Homo sapiens: one gene and its partners. The protein of the gene in region 4 purifies or fractionates together with the protein of the main gene of each other region. This does not show direct contact. Each region holds a gene or a part of one and is shown on either strand. Other genes may lie near its edges.

What was found.
Region 1: the proteins of GALNT1 (region 4) and TOR1AIP2 purify together in Homo sapiens (co-immunoprecipitation; one large-scale study listed by IntAct). This does not show direct contact.
Region 2: the proteins of GALNT1 (region 4) and SEC23A purify together in Homo sapiens (pull-down; one study listed by IntAct). This does not show direct contact.
Region 3: the proteins of GALNT1 (region 4) and GDPD5 purify together in Homo sapiens (co-immunoprecipitation; one large-scale study listed by IntAct). This does not show direct contact.

Annotation. Positions count from the first base shown.
Region 1 is NC_000001.11:179,846,804-179,850,303, forward strand, and holds part of TOR1AIP2 (torsin-1A-interacting protein 2), read right to left. Parts: intron 2,072-3,500; exon of another isoform or gene 1,422-2,071; intron 834-1,421; coding exon 732-833; intron 26-731; coding exon 1-25. UniProt on the Homo sapiens protein: Required for endoplasmic reticulum integrity. Regulates the distribution of TOR1A between the endoplasmic reticulum and the nuclear envelope as well as induces TOR1A, TOR1B and TOR3A ATPase activity.
Region 2 is NC_000014.9:39,096,736-39,100,235, reverse strand, and holds part of SEC23A (protein transport protein Sec23A), read left to right. Parts: intron 1-3,500.
Region 3 is NC_000011.10:75,515,942-75,519,441, forward strand, and holds part of GDPD5 (glycerophosphodiester phosphodiesterase domain-containing protein 5), read right to left. Parts: exon of another isoform or gene 3,074-3,500; intron 2,333-3,073; exon of another isoform or gene 2,275-2,332; intron 1,486-2,274; exon of another isoform or gene 1-1,485. UniProt on the Homo sapiens protein: Glycerophosphodiester phosphodiesterase that promotes neurite formation and drives spinal motor neuron differentiation.
Region 4 is NC_000018.10:35,689,740-35,693,239, forward strand, and holds part of GALNT1 (polypeptide N-acetylgalactosaminyltransferase 1), read left to right. Parts: intron 1-336; exon of another isoform or gene 337-1,272; coding exon 1,273-1,453; exon of another isoform or gene 1,454-1,507; intron 1,508-2,441; coding exon 2,442-2,581; intron 2,582-3,500. UniProt on the Homo sapiens protein: Catalyzes the initial reaction in O-linked oligosaccharide biosynthesis, the transfer of an N-acetyl-D-galactosamine residue to a serine or threonine residue on the protein receptor.

The DNA of each region.
Region 1 (3,500 bases), on a different chromosome or scaffold from region 4:
ACCAGGACGACAAGAATCACAGGGCCTGTCAAAAGAATGAAAAAGGAATAGAAAATTACAGAGAACACGAGCCAGAAACAAAGCCTGTGGTAAACTGAAATGAGGCAGAGATACCAGCAGGTTTTACTAGGAGCAATAAGTTTCTTTTGCATAAATTGTTTAAACTTTCAATCCACCAGAAGTACCTTTTCTCTAATCTCTTCTCAGATTTAATTATTTGAAGATATATCTGTTAAAAGATAAAAGCTACGTGGAAGAGTTAAGTACTCGGTAAAAAATTTTTAAAAATAAAAGGTAAAAGCTGAGTCTATGTATTTGTTATTATAACTAATGATGTAATTTAGACATGAGTGATCAAGATTTTTTTTCATCTTCTCAATGCACCTACTACCTATAGCCGACCATTTTTTTAGGAGTCATAACTTTAAAGTGCACTTGAAAAATTAATATTCTCTAATTAGAAAGGCAGTTTTTGTTTCTTGTTTAGGAAAAGCCTTTCCTATTGTGAGAAATTCCATTTTGTTAAGCACAGCAAAATATCAGCCAGCACCCGTAAGGGAAAAATCCCTAAAACTCTAGTGTACTATTTTACTATGTCTCACTACCAATCATTAAATAAGTATATATAAACACAATGTTAAAACTGTTTAAATCTGCTAGTTTTCTAGGCATTTTCACTGAGGATTTCTGAAAGTGAATCAACACTGCAGTAAAACCAGGTTTGTTCTCACCATAGCTCCAAAAACCCTTTTTATTAATCTGTCTCATGGTGTCCTGTGCATTCTCTTTAATTTCTTCCAATTTTTGTGTTTGTTGTGGATGACTTCCAGCCTCTGGAGAGGAAAAGAATCAATATTATTTTTAGGCAGTACACTAATGACAGTATGTATACCTTTATATCTCTCACCAAACCAAAGAATGATTTGACTAAAAGGCTTTCTATACCTTGGCCAGGTACGGTGGCTCATGCCTGTAATCCCAGCACTTTGGGAGGCTGAAACAGGTGGCTCACTTGGGGTCAGGAGTTTGAGACCAGCATGGCCAACAAGGTGAAACCCTGTCTCTACTAAAAATACAAAAATTATCGGGCATGATGGCGGGCGCCTGTAATCCCAGCTACGTGGGAGGCTGAGGCAGGAGAATCGCTTGAACCTGGGAGGTGGAGGTTGCAGTGAGCCGACATCGTGCCACTGCACTCCAGCCTGGGGGACAGAGCAAGACTCCATCTCAGAAAAAAAAAAAAAAAAAACCAAAGTTAACATTTTTCCTGTCTTTTCTTTAAGACTATTACTTTTATTCTACTTAGAAGGATAAAATGAAATACTGTGAAATTCATTCAAGGATAATGTTGCTATATTCACAATTCCTTACTGCCTCTTATATCAAAGACAAAGACATTTAAATAGTGCGGCCAAACTTACCTAAAATGTAATTCAGCAAAATGTATAAAATCAAGAAGGGATTTAAGAAATGTTGGCTGTACACAAGATTCAACTTCACAGGGTAATTGTGCTCTAATTCCAGTGTTCGAGTTTCACATGGTTCCTCAAGACCCCGAATATAAAAATAACAGAGGCACTAAGTTCTAAGATAGGAGAGATTAGTGTACAGTTGCAAAATAGCTTACAGAAGCAAATTTGAAACTCTTAGTGAAGGAGATATACAAAGCAAGGAATATAAGGTGAAGAAAATTCACGAAATATGTAAAAATCCAGATGTAGGGAGGGCATGCCAAGCTTAAAATATGTGGGTGAAAAGAAGGGCAACAATTTTTAGCACTCTAAGCTAAATCACACTAGAATCTAAATTTGTGCTTAACCCCAGCCAGGTACTTCTATTAGCATAGATGAGTAGGATCATCTTCACTTATAAAGGATTGTTCCTATCACCCCAAAGAGTAGGTTCTTAAAATATCATATCATAGAATCTAAGAACTGAAAGGATCTATAATGGACACCTACTCCGGCCCCATTACTTAACCTATCATGAAAAAAGGTCCAGGGATATTAAAGATCTTGCCCAAGGTCACATAAAGAGATGTAGCTGGCTGGGCGCAGTGGCTCACGCCTGTAATCCCAGCACTTTGGGAGGCCGAGGCGGGCGGATCACAAGGTCAGGAGATCGAGACCATCCTGGCTAATACGGTGAAATCCCGTCTCTACTAAAAATACAAAAAAAAAAAATTAGTTGGGCACGGTGGCGGGTGCCTGTAGTCCCAGCTACTCGGGAGGCTGAGGCAGGAGAATGGCGTGAATCCGGGAGGCGGAGCTTGCAGTGAGCCGAGACAGCGCCACTGCAGTCCGGCCTGGGCAAAAGAGTGAGACTCCATCTCAAAAAAACAAAAAAAAAGAGATATAGCTAAGTTGAGATGAAAACAAAGTTTCTCATCTCTTAGAGTATAGATAACCTCATTCAACTATATTAAATTGCTTTCCATACATAAACTGCATTTTTTTTTTTAAAGACAGGGTCTCACTCTGTCAACAAGGCTGGAGTGTAGTGCTGAAATTTCGGCTCACCACAGCTTCAACCTCCTGGGCTCAAGCAATCCTCCCACCTCAGCCTCCTGAGGACTATAGGTGCATGCAGCTGTTTTTGTGTTTTCTGTAGAGATGGGTTTTTGCCATGTTGCCCAGGCTGGTCTTCCTGGCCTCAAGTGATCCACCAGCCTTGGCCTCCCAAAGTGCTAGGATCACAGGAGTGAGCCACCACCCTTGGCCTAAACTAGATTTTTTTAAACAATATTTTTTCTACTCACAGTGAACCTGCCTAACAGTGAATTTTTTTTTAAGAGATGGGATCTCACTAGATTGCCCAGGCTAGCTAGAATGCAGTGGCTATTCACAGGGGTGATCATAGCACACTGCAGGCTTGAACTCCTGGGCTCAAGCAATCCTCCCAACTCAGCTTCCCAAGTAACTGGGACTAGAGGTGTAAGTAATTGCACCTAGTTTATAACAGTGAAATTCTGACGCAGGTCATGGTCCTTACAGATCACATTCATTCATTTGACAAAATTCATAAAGGTGTTTCTATGTGCCAGGTGCCAGAGATACACAATGAATGAGAGGACACAGTCCTTGCCTTCACTGAAGTTACAGATTATTCTAATGATTAATAAATAAAACATATATTTGAGATTAGTCATTGATTTGCAGTGAAACATGAATTACTAGCCCTTGCTGAAGTCCCTGATGAACAGAACATCTTATATTTTATATTCTTTTGCACTGGCAAATGGGCATTTCAGACTGAGCTCTTCAGAGTGCTTATAAAATACAAACCCACACAGACAATCACAGAAGGTGAAAGTTAGAAGAATGTTTGGATATCATCTTGTCCAACTTCTTCATTTTACAAACAGGAAATTGAAGCACCAGGAAGGGAAGATTTTCCCAAGGTCTCCCAAGTCAGCAAGTGGTAGGGCCACAACTAGAATTCACACCTCCAGTTCCAGTTAAGGATTTAGCACACTGCAACGCTTAGCTTCATAAGGGAAG
Region 2 (3,500 bases), on a different chromosome or scaffold from region 4:
GTGGGATTTTCTTCAAACTACTGCTGGAATGTGGGAATGTAAGAAGTATAATAGATGTGATTTAGCAAGCAAATTGATCTTAGAGCAGGGAGATTGAGAGGAAAAAATGTGAAGAAGAGAAGAGAGTTGTGCCCAGATATCACTCAGGTGATATTTAGTATGTCTTAATAAGAAGTAAGAATGTAGAGATACAATCCAGCCTTTTAACCAGTTGTAGAAAGTTAAACCTGGCTATTGTCTGTGTGTGAATGTCTTCCTGCTAAGACTCCTGGAACCTTTCTTAGTGAGGTTTCCTAATGGTCCTAAGGCAGTGGTTTTCAGAACCCCTAACTTAAACATTATTGAGTATCCAAAGAGAAAAAAAAAAGGCTAAATAGAAGACAGGTGGGTTTTCATATCTGTTTCTGCAGTTTATTGTGATATATTGTTTTGGTTGAATTGTATGAAGGATTAATTAATAAATTAAAAGGTTAATTGCAGTGTGGAATCTGAAAGCTTAGGAGTGACCTTTTTGTACTTTGTTACCTTAAAACTCATTGGCCTATTCTACACTTTGAATGGATCATCTACCCATGTGTGATATTTTCATATCACAAATTGACGGTTTGGAAGATATTGCTTCACTGAGTAATGTATATCTTCTAAATGTTAATACATTTTGTTATATACTATCAAACAAATTACATTAATACCAACACTGATCTCATCAGAAAAATCTTTACATATTAGGAACTTGTCAAGCTTATGGTAGCAGGCACAAGTTTTAAAACAATTTAATGGCGGGGAGCGGTGCCTCAAGCATGTAATCCCAGCACTTTGGGAGGCCGAGGCCGGCGGATCACGAGGTCAGACAATTGAGATCATCCTGGCCAACATGGTGAAACCCTGTCTCTACTAAAAATACAAAAAATTAGCTGGGTATGGTGGCACGCGCATGTAGTCCCAGCTACTTGGGAGGCTGAGGCAGGGGAATCGCTTGAACCCGGGAGGCAGAGGTTGCAGTGAGCTGAGATTGCCCCACTGCACTCCAGCCTGGTGACAGAGTGAGACTCCGTGTCAAAAAAAAAAAAAAAAAAAAAAACCCAAAAACAATTTAATGTTTGCTTGAAAGCTCAAATTTTTATCATTGGCAAAAAATACTATAAGTTGTTTTCTATGAAGTGATAGGTTTACTTCATACATTTTTGAGAAAATATCTGTGTAATACCTAAGTACTAGTTATGTACTATCCTTGGGAGAATTGAGAAAACAGTCATTGAAAACATTTTTTGTTTTGTGTTTCAGCTATTTTAATGCCTTTTGCAGATGTGTTTTAGATGCATTTTATTTTTTTTTTTTGTTATGGCACATTAGAATTTTTATTTTTTCTTAATAACACTGGATTTCTTATGACTTATTTTTTGTCAAATGTAGTCATCCCTGTTCTGATTTCATTTTATTTTATTAAATTTTTTTTTTTTTTGAGAAGGAGTCTCACTCTGTCGCCCAGGCTAGAGTGCAGTGGCATGATCTCGGCTCACTGCAACCTCCACCTCCCGGGTTCAAGTGATTCTCCTGCCTTAGCCTCCTGAGTAGCTGGGATTACAGGCACTCACCACCAGCTCAGCTAATTTTTGTATTTTTGGTAGAGATGGGGTTTCACCATGTTGGCCAGGCTGGTCTTGAACTCCTACCTCAAGCGATCCGCTGGCCTCAGCCTCCCAAAGTGCTAGGATTACAGGCGTGAGCCACTGTGCCTGGCCTTAAAATTTTTTTTATTTTTAATTTTTGTGGGTACATAGTAGGCGTGTACATGCTTCTTAAATTATAGGAGCAATTAAGTAGTAAACACAATTTTATTTGCCTTATGTTCTGTATAATAAATGTGGAAGAGGTTTGCATAGTCTTAGAATTTATATTCACATCAGTAACATGGAAGCTGTTGCTAAAAACTGGATTTCTAATCTCCCCCTCACCCCCACGTCCTGGTTGTTTTTTCTTTATTGCCACCTATGTTACGGTGGAGTTTGACATCTTCTAACTCTCCTCTGAATATCCCACACCTTTGTTTTATCATTATCTTTCAACACTTTTCCTTGAAAGCTCATACCACCCTTCTCAAAGCTGCCTTCTATATTTACCTTCAAAATAGTTTTGTTTTTTTTTTTGAGATGGAGTCTTGTTCTGTCGCCCAGGCTGGAGTGCAGTGGTGCAATCTCAGCTCACCACAACCTCTGCCCCCCCAGTTCAAGCGATTCTCCTGCCTCAGCCTCCTGAGTAGCTGGGATTACAGGTGCATGCCACCCTGCCCAGCTAATTTTTTTGTGTGTTTTTAGTAGAGACGGGGTTTTGCCATGTTGACCAGGCTGGTCTTGAACTCCTGATCTCAGGTGATCCACCTGCCTCAGCCTCCCAAAGTGCTGGGATTACAGGCTTGAGCCACTGCACCCGGCCCAAAATAGTCTTTTCTAAACAAGTTTAGTCTTGGGATTTCTCTTTACCCTTTATGCACCTTTGAAAAACCACAATCTTTTTTGATTAGCGTAAGATTTTCTAGCTGTCTCCAAGATTCTGGCACAATTGGAGGAAATACAGTGTTTTCTTTAATTTTTATTTTCTTATTTAAAGAAGAGAAAGTTCTTAACTGCTTGGAATGCTTAGATTTGTTAAGCTTCACTTTCTGCCATTTGTTTTATGAAAATTTATTTGAAAGATTTTCTAAAATTAAAATTGTTATATCTAACTTTTTCCCCCCAAATAATATCTCTTCTTTCTTCACTTAAATTTTAGAATCAGCTTCTTGTCCCACTATTGCTCTTAGCAACTTTAAACATCCATGTTGGGTTTTCCAGGCACCCTAGGTTCACAGTTCACTTCTTTCAACTTGACGTCCTTCCTGTCTGCTGCATAACACTTGAATGTCTTTGTCCTCCCACACCTTTAAATTCTTCAGCTTCCTTCCATGACTAACTACTGTTGCAGTTTGAGAGCATGAGATAGAGCTGTTGCCTACGTAGGAAAGCCGGCATCCTACCTAGGCATTTAGACAGTAAAAATGGAGCTGTCTTTTGATACTGGTCCCTCCCCAGAGTGCATCCTCTTCCCTTGGTTAGTAAACTTAAATTATTATACTGAAATTTTATATCTCAAATTGGAGTTTAAAATGCTCTCATAATTTGGAATGTTCAAAATATTCTGAAGTAAGTTTCTGCAAAAGAGTCTAAATGATATATAAATTGGGGGAACAGCACTTATCAAGCATTTTATTTATTGTGCCACAAATAGCCTGTACTTGCACAATAAGAAAATTACCTGTCCAAAGCAGAAGTGTCCAGTTTTAGGAAAATCTTTTTGTTACATACCATTAAACATTCTCTTCTGTAAAGTTTAGTGGAAACTTGTTATTTTTCAGATAGAAACCATGTGAGTTTTAGAACTTTATAATTTTGAAATCTGTTTATATGAATTCTTATAATTTTCAAAACTGATATGGAAAACATAGGATCTAGGTTTTCCCCCTA
Region 3 (3,500 bases), on a different chromosome or scaffold from region 4:
GGGTATGGTAAAAACAGATGATCTTTAAACTGTGTCCTAAGGACAGTGTATTCAGTGGACTCCCGGGCTTTTGATGGACAGAGTGAGGAAGTGTCTTTGGTTTGCTTCTCCAGAGCCACTCTCTACCTTGTTTGGGGCCCTGGGAACTGACCTCTGTGGAATGTAATGGGCTCCATGCTGCTGGCTTTCAGAGAGGTACACCCAACAGGAAGCATAAATGGGGGACTGAAGGAAAGAGGAAAGATAGTTGAAGTTTATCCCCTGTGAGGTCTCCTGGGTTGACTGGGTCCCTGTACTGATGGCCCACAGCCCCTATCCCTATAGCTGCCCACTTCCCTTGCTCCTTCAGCCCTGAGTGGTAACTGCTCCCAGCCACTGCTAGTCCCTCGGTGCTGCACTATCCCGTGTTGATTTGTCACACGCCTAATGCCTGAGCCAGTCACTCTGGGTTGATGTACCCTCTCTGGCTGTGCCCAGGCAAGGAGACCAAGCACTGCCACTGATGGCCCCTTTTGTAGTCTTCCTCTGTCCAGTCCTCAGAGCCTCCTCTGGTCTTAAAGAAGAGCAGTTTGAAGGGATGCCCATGATTACATGTGCAGGCCTCCTCTGTCCTCTGTCTCAGCCTGGGCCTGGTGGGGCAAGGGGAGCAGACTGGGAGACAGGGAGCGTGGACCAGCCAGTGAAGGAAGGGGCAGGAGGCAGGGGTCAGCTCCCCAGCAAGTGCATGCACCAACAGCTCTTGAGTGCTTAGTTTACGGTAGGCACTGTGCTCCACATACCAGTAATTTTATTTGCTTCTCAGGTAATCCCAGGAAGTCCTTCCTACAAATGCATTTTATAGGAGAAACAACTCGTGCTCAAAGAGATAAAATGATTCTTCCAGGGTCATCCTGCCAGTAAGTGACAAAGCCAGGATCAACATAAGTTTTCTGTCTTCTGTATGGTAGACACGTTGGACAGTGATACCTGGACTTGAGCAAGCCCTGAGAATGACCTTGTATGGCAGGCGCACCTCAATGCAGTTTGGTTCTAAGCTAAGGAATCTGGGAGTAGCCAACCCGGAGATCCACTCCTTATCTATGAGGAACATCTGAGCTCTTGGCCCATCCTATGGAACTTGCGGGCCAAACAGAGGATTGAGGTCTGTGGTTTGGGGTAAATGGAGGTTGCTAGGTGGAAGTTGTTGGGGGAGGTGCTAAGTGAAAATGCTATAGAAATTGCAAGCTTTTAGGCTGGGGGGCGGTAGCTCACAGCTATAATCCCAGCACTTTGGGAGGCTGAGGCAGGCGGATCACCTGAAGTCAGGAGTTTGAGACCAGCCTAACCAACATAGCGAAACTCCATCTCTACTAAAAATACAAAATTAGCTGCGTGTGGTGGCACTTGCCTGTAATCCCAGCTACTTGGGAGGCTGAGGCAGGAGAATCGCTTGAACCTGGGAGGCGGAGGCTGCAGTGAGTGAAGATCGCGCCATTGCACTCCAGCCTGGGCAATAAGAACGAAACTCTGTCTCAAAAAAAAAAACCAAAACCAAAACCAAAAACAAAAAAACTGCACACTTCCTGCGAGTGGTTGTGGTTCTTCGGTCCAGCCAGCAGCCACTGGACTCTCTCCCCTGTGTGTGAGCCCGTAGTAAAACCCCATGGCTCATTCGCTGGCTCTGGGTCTCCTCTTTGGCCTCTTGAGCCTGGTGCCATCCTCACTGGCACTGATAGGGGTTTAGCTCAACACCTAGTAACTACCTTGAAATAATTTTAGTGAACTGGCTCACAATCACAGCAGAGTTGGATGACTTAAGTGGGGTCAATTATCGGTGAGGATTTGCACAGAGGCCTCCAATGTTCCCTGGACACCCTCCCCTAGATTAAAAAAAAAAATCCTCTGACATTCTTCAGTTCTCCCAGGTGGGACAGGGGCCCCAAGCAGGTGGTGCAGTTGGGTGTCCGGGTTGGAAAAACAAGCAGATTCAGACAAGGCTTCATTGTTAAGGAGAGTCTGACACTTTGACCATTAAAGCAAAACTGAGCAAAACAAAATGCTTACTGCCTTGTCTTATCTCTTAGAGAGAAAGGGGACAGTGGGAAGGGCCCCCGGGCTGGGTGTTGATCCCACCCTAACCAGCGCCAGTCTCAGAGACCTGGCCTCAGGTGGCTGGGGCAGGGAGTTCAGGGTCTCAGTCCAGCCCGGCGTCAGGTATGGGGTGGGTGCTTGCCATGTGTGGCCTCGTCTGGCCTCTGTGGCCCTTTCAGAGAGATCGTTATTGTCATTTTTCAGATGAGGAAACTGAGGCTCCGAGAAGACACGCAGGGAGCAGCTGCATGCTGGAACCCAGGTTAACTGGATTACCAAGTCTTCCCACTCCCCTCATCTCTCCAGGCAGGAAGGTCCTGGGGGGAGGAAGCAGCCTCGGAAGGAATGAGCTCCTTGTCCTGGGGATGTGCAAGTATTGTCTTGGGACACTGTGGGAGGTAGGCTGCAGAGGGCAGCCAGGTGGCTCTCAAACTGAAATCACCAGGGGAGCTTCATCAACTACTGATGCCTGGGTCATGCCCCAGAGATTGTGGGGCCTGCAGGACTTTTAAAAGTTTCCCAGATGATTCTAATGTGAAACAAAGTTTGAAAGCCATGGGCTTGGATGCCCACTGCTGCCCTTCCCACCTCTGAAACTCTCCTGCCACACGCCTTTCTAAGGAAAGAAGGGATTTATTACCCTGACCCCATTTTACAAAATGGGCAGAAGCCAAGCAAAATATAAGGGTGTCCTCAAGGCCCCACAGCCAGCAACAAATCGAGGCAGCATGAGGGGTCCCCTGATTTCAGACTGCCCCTGGGGTGAGCTTCTTTAAGACACTTGGGGGTTCCAGCTCCCTTGTCAGTGGGAGAGAAGTTTCTCTTTGAGCCTCCTGGGTGAGAGAGTGAGACATTCTTCGTGGCATTTTTTTTAAAGAGTCCACTCGTTCAAAAGCTAAACAGCTGCAGGATTAACGCTGGAAGACCCCCTCTGCTTGCTGGTGTGCCTTGGGAGCAAGAAGATAAAAGAACTCAAAGCAGGCCTGTTTATCCTTTTCTGCAGGAGATTTGGTCACAAGCCTGGGAAGAGCTGAGCCTGTCAGACCAGCAGCCCACACTTCCTCCCCACCTGCCTTTCCGCCTTCCTCATGCCCTGAAAGCAGAATGTCACAGATGGAGAGATGGTGTGGGTTGGTGGGAAGTGAGAGGCCTGTGGAGTCCACTGGTCCTGGGGTCTGCCCAAGCTCTCCTCCTTGCCAGCTACCTTTGGAGAGGAGCTACTCCTCTCTCAGCTCATTCAGTGCTGATCTCACAGAGGTCCAAAGTCAGCAACATGGGCACCACCTCCAGGAAGGCTTCCCTGACTCCCCTCCCCACCCAGCGCCGGGCAACCCCAGGCCCCTGGCCTTCCCTGTCACATTCTGTGTTGTCACTGCTTCTGTGTCCTCCCAACCCTACCAGGCTGTTCATTCATTCATTCCACGGAGCAG
Region 4 (3,500 bases):
TGCGAAAGAATTCTAAAATGACTCTAAATTAATTTAACCCAGTCTACATATAAAGTCTTTGCATTTCATGTTCACTAGAATCAACATATCGTTTAAATGGCATTGCATATTTTTGCAAATAACCAACTTTAGACACATAGCTTATTATAGTGGAAATCACACTGACGTGTACTGTAATCTGAACCAGCGAGCTCACTTTGTTCCCAGTGAATCGCTTTGCCTTCTTGTCAAAGAGAGGGTTGGACTCAATATCACCTTGGAGATCCTATCCAGCTCTAACACTTATAATCCTGGGAAAACTTGAAGGTAGGAACACTGAATATTTAACAAAATCAGAACTTTCCAAAATGTTATTTTAATTATAAAGAGTTATGAGATTTTTAACTTGGTGGGGGGAATGTATTTTGAAAGAAACAGAAGGATTTCATTAAATTAAGGATGTAAGCCCATACTTGATCATCTTTCTTCTGCCCCTTTTTTTGTTTTTATTGTTCTAACAAAGACAACAAAACATGCTTTTACTGTCTCACTGAAGAACTTACAATGGATCTAGTTGAGATTCCTAGGTTCTGTTTCATGTACAAGCCGTGACGCAGGTTTGGAGAGGGGTGAACAGATGAGCATCTGGCTGGTTACTCCATGGTCAGGTTTTGTTTGGTGGTTGTTTTTAACCATGAGCCACATTAATAAATACATTATACATTCTGCACACACAAAACATAAAATTTAAACATTTTATGAAACAGTATGTCCTTGTTAACAAGTACAGGTTGCAATTCATCAATTTGAATTTATGATTCTCTTAGGTATAATGGCCTGCAGTTAGAAAAATACTGCTCTAGATCCCATATCTTTTCTGTATTTAGCCTTTAACCTATGTTTTCTTTATTTTAATCTTCAACTTTTGGTTTGATCAGAACCCAAATTAGAGAAATGTTTCTCTTGAGGAAGCACTGGCTTTGTAACCTAACCATACAGCCGGAGCCCATCATGTGCCCCTGATTTTGCGAAATTCCAACTGTGGAACCCAATAGATGTCAATACTTTTTTAAAAACTATCAATGTCATATATGGTCTTTGCTGTTATTTTCAGATTTGGTAGTATGGAGGTACTTTGGAAGCTTTTTACCAGTAACTACAATATGTTCCATTTAAGTTTAAACAAAAGCCAAACCCCTATTTAATTGAAAAGAAAAATACTATGGGAAAACTAAGGTGAACATTTCCTGATTACTCAGCTACATGTTACATGGTCATCTCTGCTGTTTTCAGATTTGGCAGTGTGGAGGAACTTTGGAAATTGTTACATGCTCACATGTTGGACATGTGTTTCGGAAAGCTACACCTTACACGTTTCCAGGAGGCACAGGGCAGATTATCAATAAAAATAACAGACGACTTGCAGAAGTGTGGATGGATGAATTCAAGAATTTCTTCTATATAATTTCTCCAGGTTAGCGTTGTTTTGCATTAGAAATACAAGGCTGTACCTTTGTTGACCCTGATCCTGGAGGAGAAGTAAGAAGGTTAGAAGTGAAGCTTTGAGCAGAGGTGAACACCTGCCTCATAAGGTCATTGTAAGGAATGAATGAAATCACACACAGTATAGAAAGTGCTTGGCAGAATGCCTAGAATAATATATAATTAACAGTAATAAATTATCCAGGTCAGTGTTGCTAGCCCAGGTTTTGCAGATGTTCTATTTTTTTTAAAACCTAACTGCAACATTTAGTATTTATTCCTGTGAAGTTTCATCTTGTTAAATTTTCAGCCATTTTTCTAGCTTATATGACTTTTTCTTGATTCTTGGAGTTTTCATTCAACATAACAAAACCACTGTTTTTGCAGTGGGTCATGAACGTTCTCTATAAGCAGGCCCTCAATGCTGTCATAGGAGGCTTTCGTCAAGTATCACAAGGCCACTGAGAGCCCAAAACGTGCCACAGGGCCTTCTTTCCGGAAACTTTGCTATTCAGAGTTTTGTAGGAACAGTTGTTCCATCAGCTATAAGTCGGCCTGACATTGTTACTAGTCCATCCTTATTTTTTAGTTACTGCAAGACTGTCAAGTGGCAGGGTGCACAGTTCAGTGAGTTGTGTGAGAGAAGCCTGACTGCAAACAATTGCTCTGTTTAATATTTGAGCAAAATAGACCTTGATTTTTTTGTTTGTGCCTTAACATATATTGAAGTTTACTGATCCCATATCACTTATATTTCATTCTCACATAAATGTCATTTTTCTCTGAAAAATTAAAACACATTTTAATGTATTTTCCTTGCTTTATACTTTTGGTGGATTCATGGTGTCTCCACTTGTATAGTCACATATCACCCAGCTGATACCACTGTTCTGATTCATCTGGCTTATTAGATTCAATATATAAACATGTGTTACCTAAAACAACACTAATAATTCAGAGTCAATTATTTCTTTCAACAGGTGTTACAAAGGTAGATTATGGAGATATATCGTCAAGAGTTGGTCTAAGACACAAACTACAATGCAAACCTTTTTCCTGGTACCTAGAGAATATATATCCTGATTCTCAAATTCCACGTCACTATTTCTCATTGGGAGAGGTAAGAAATATATATATATATATTCTATGTGGTTATTATGTTCTTACTTTTTTATTAAAAAAAAATAGGAGTTAGTTAAACTTCCAATAAGGAAAGTACCTTCATGTTAACATTTAACTTCTCTTGCTTCCTTCCTCCTTCTTACCACGTAAGTCTAAACTATATTCTTTTTTTCCCATTCCTCCTCCCTGAAAGTTGATTTCCACTGAGTTGATGCGCCTGGAGATAAGCTGTGTACTGTGGGGTCTGTTTTTCCCTATTCTGTCTATAGTGATGTGTTTCCTAAACAGACTGCACCATCTGCAATTGTGGATCTGTAAAATCTGTATATATATTAAAAAAAAAAAGACTTCTTTGCAGGTCTTTGTGAACTTGTAATTATAAGATGGCTTTTAGAAAAAAATATGAAGCCAAGTAGGGAAAGAAATCCAACCTTTTTGTGATAGAAATCAATAGAAGGACAATATTTCCTTTTATAAGTCACAGCAGCAAATGATGATATGTGTAGACAGGGCCACAAGCAGGCCTACCCCAGGATTAAATCTCAGGAAAAGTGGCCTCCCACTCTGAAGAAGGTTGTCACTTCTTCAGTCCTTTCATTCATTCAACAAATATTTGAGTACCTCTAGTATATGACAAGTACTGTTTTAAGTACTAGGAATACAGCAATAAGTAAAGCAGAGATCCTGCTCTTGTTGATCTTACAGTCCATGAGTAAGACAGATTATGAAAGGCACACAATATGTCAGGTGGTGGTAAGGGCAGAAGGGATAGAGAATGACTGACAAGTGAGCGTGGGTAGTAGTACTGTTTTATGTAAGGAAGTTGAAAGAGTACGGAAGTTGAAAGAGTCCTGTCAAGGTGATTTTGAGCAGAGATCTGAAGAAAGTGAATGAGCAGGTCATACGAGTTTTTAGGG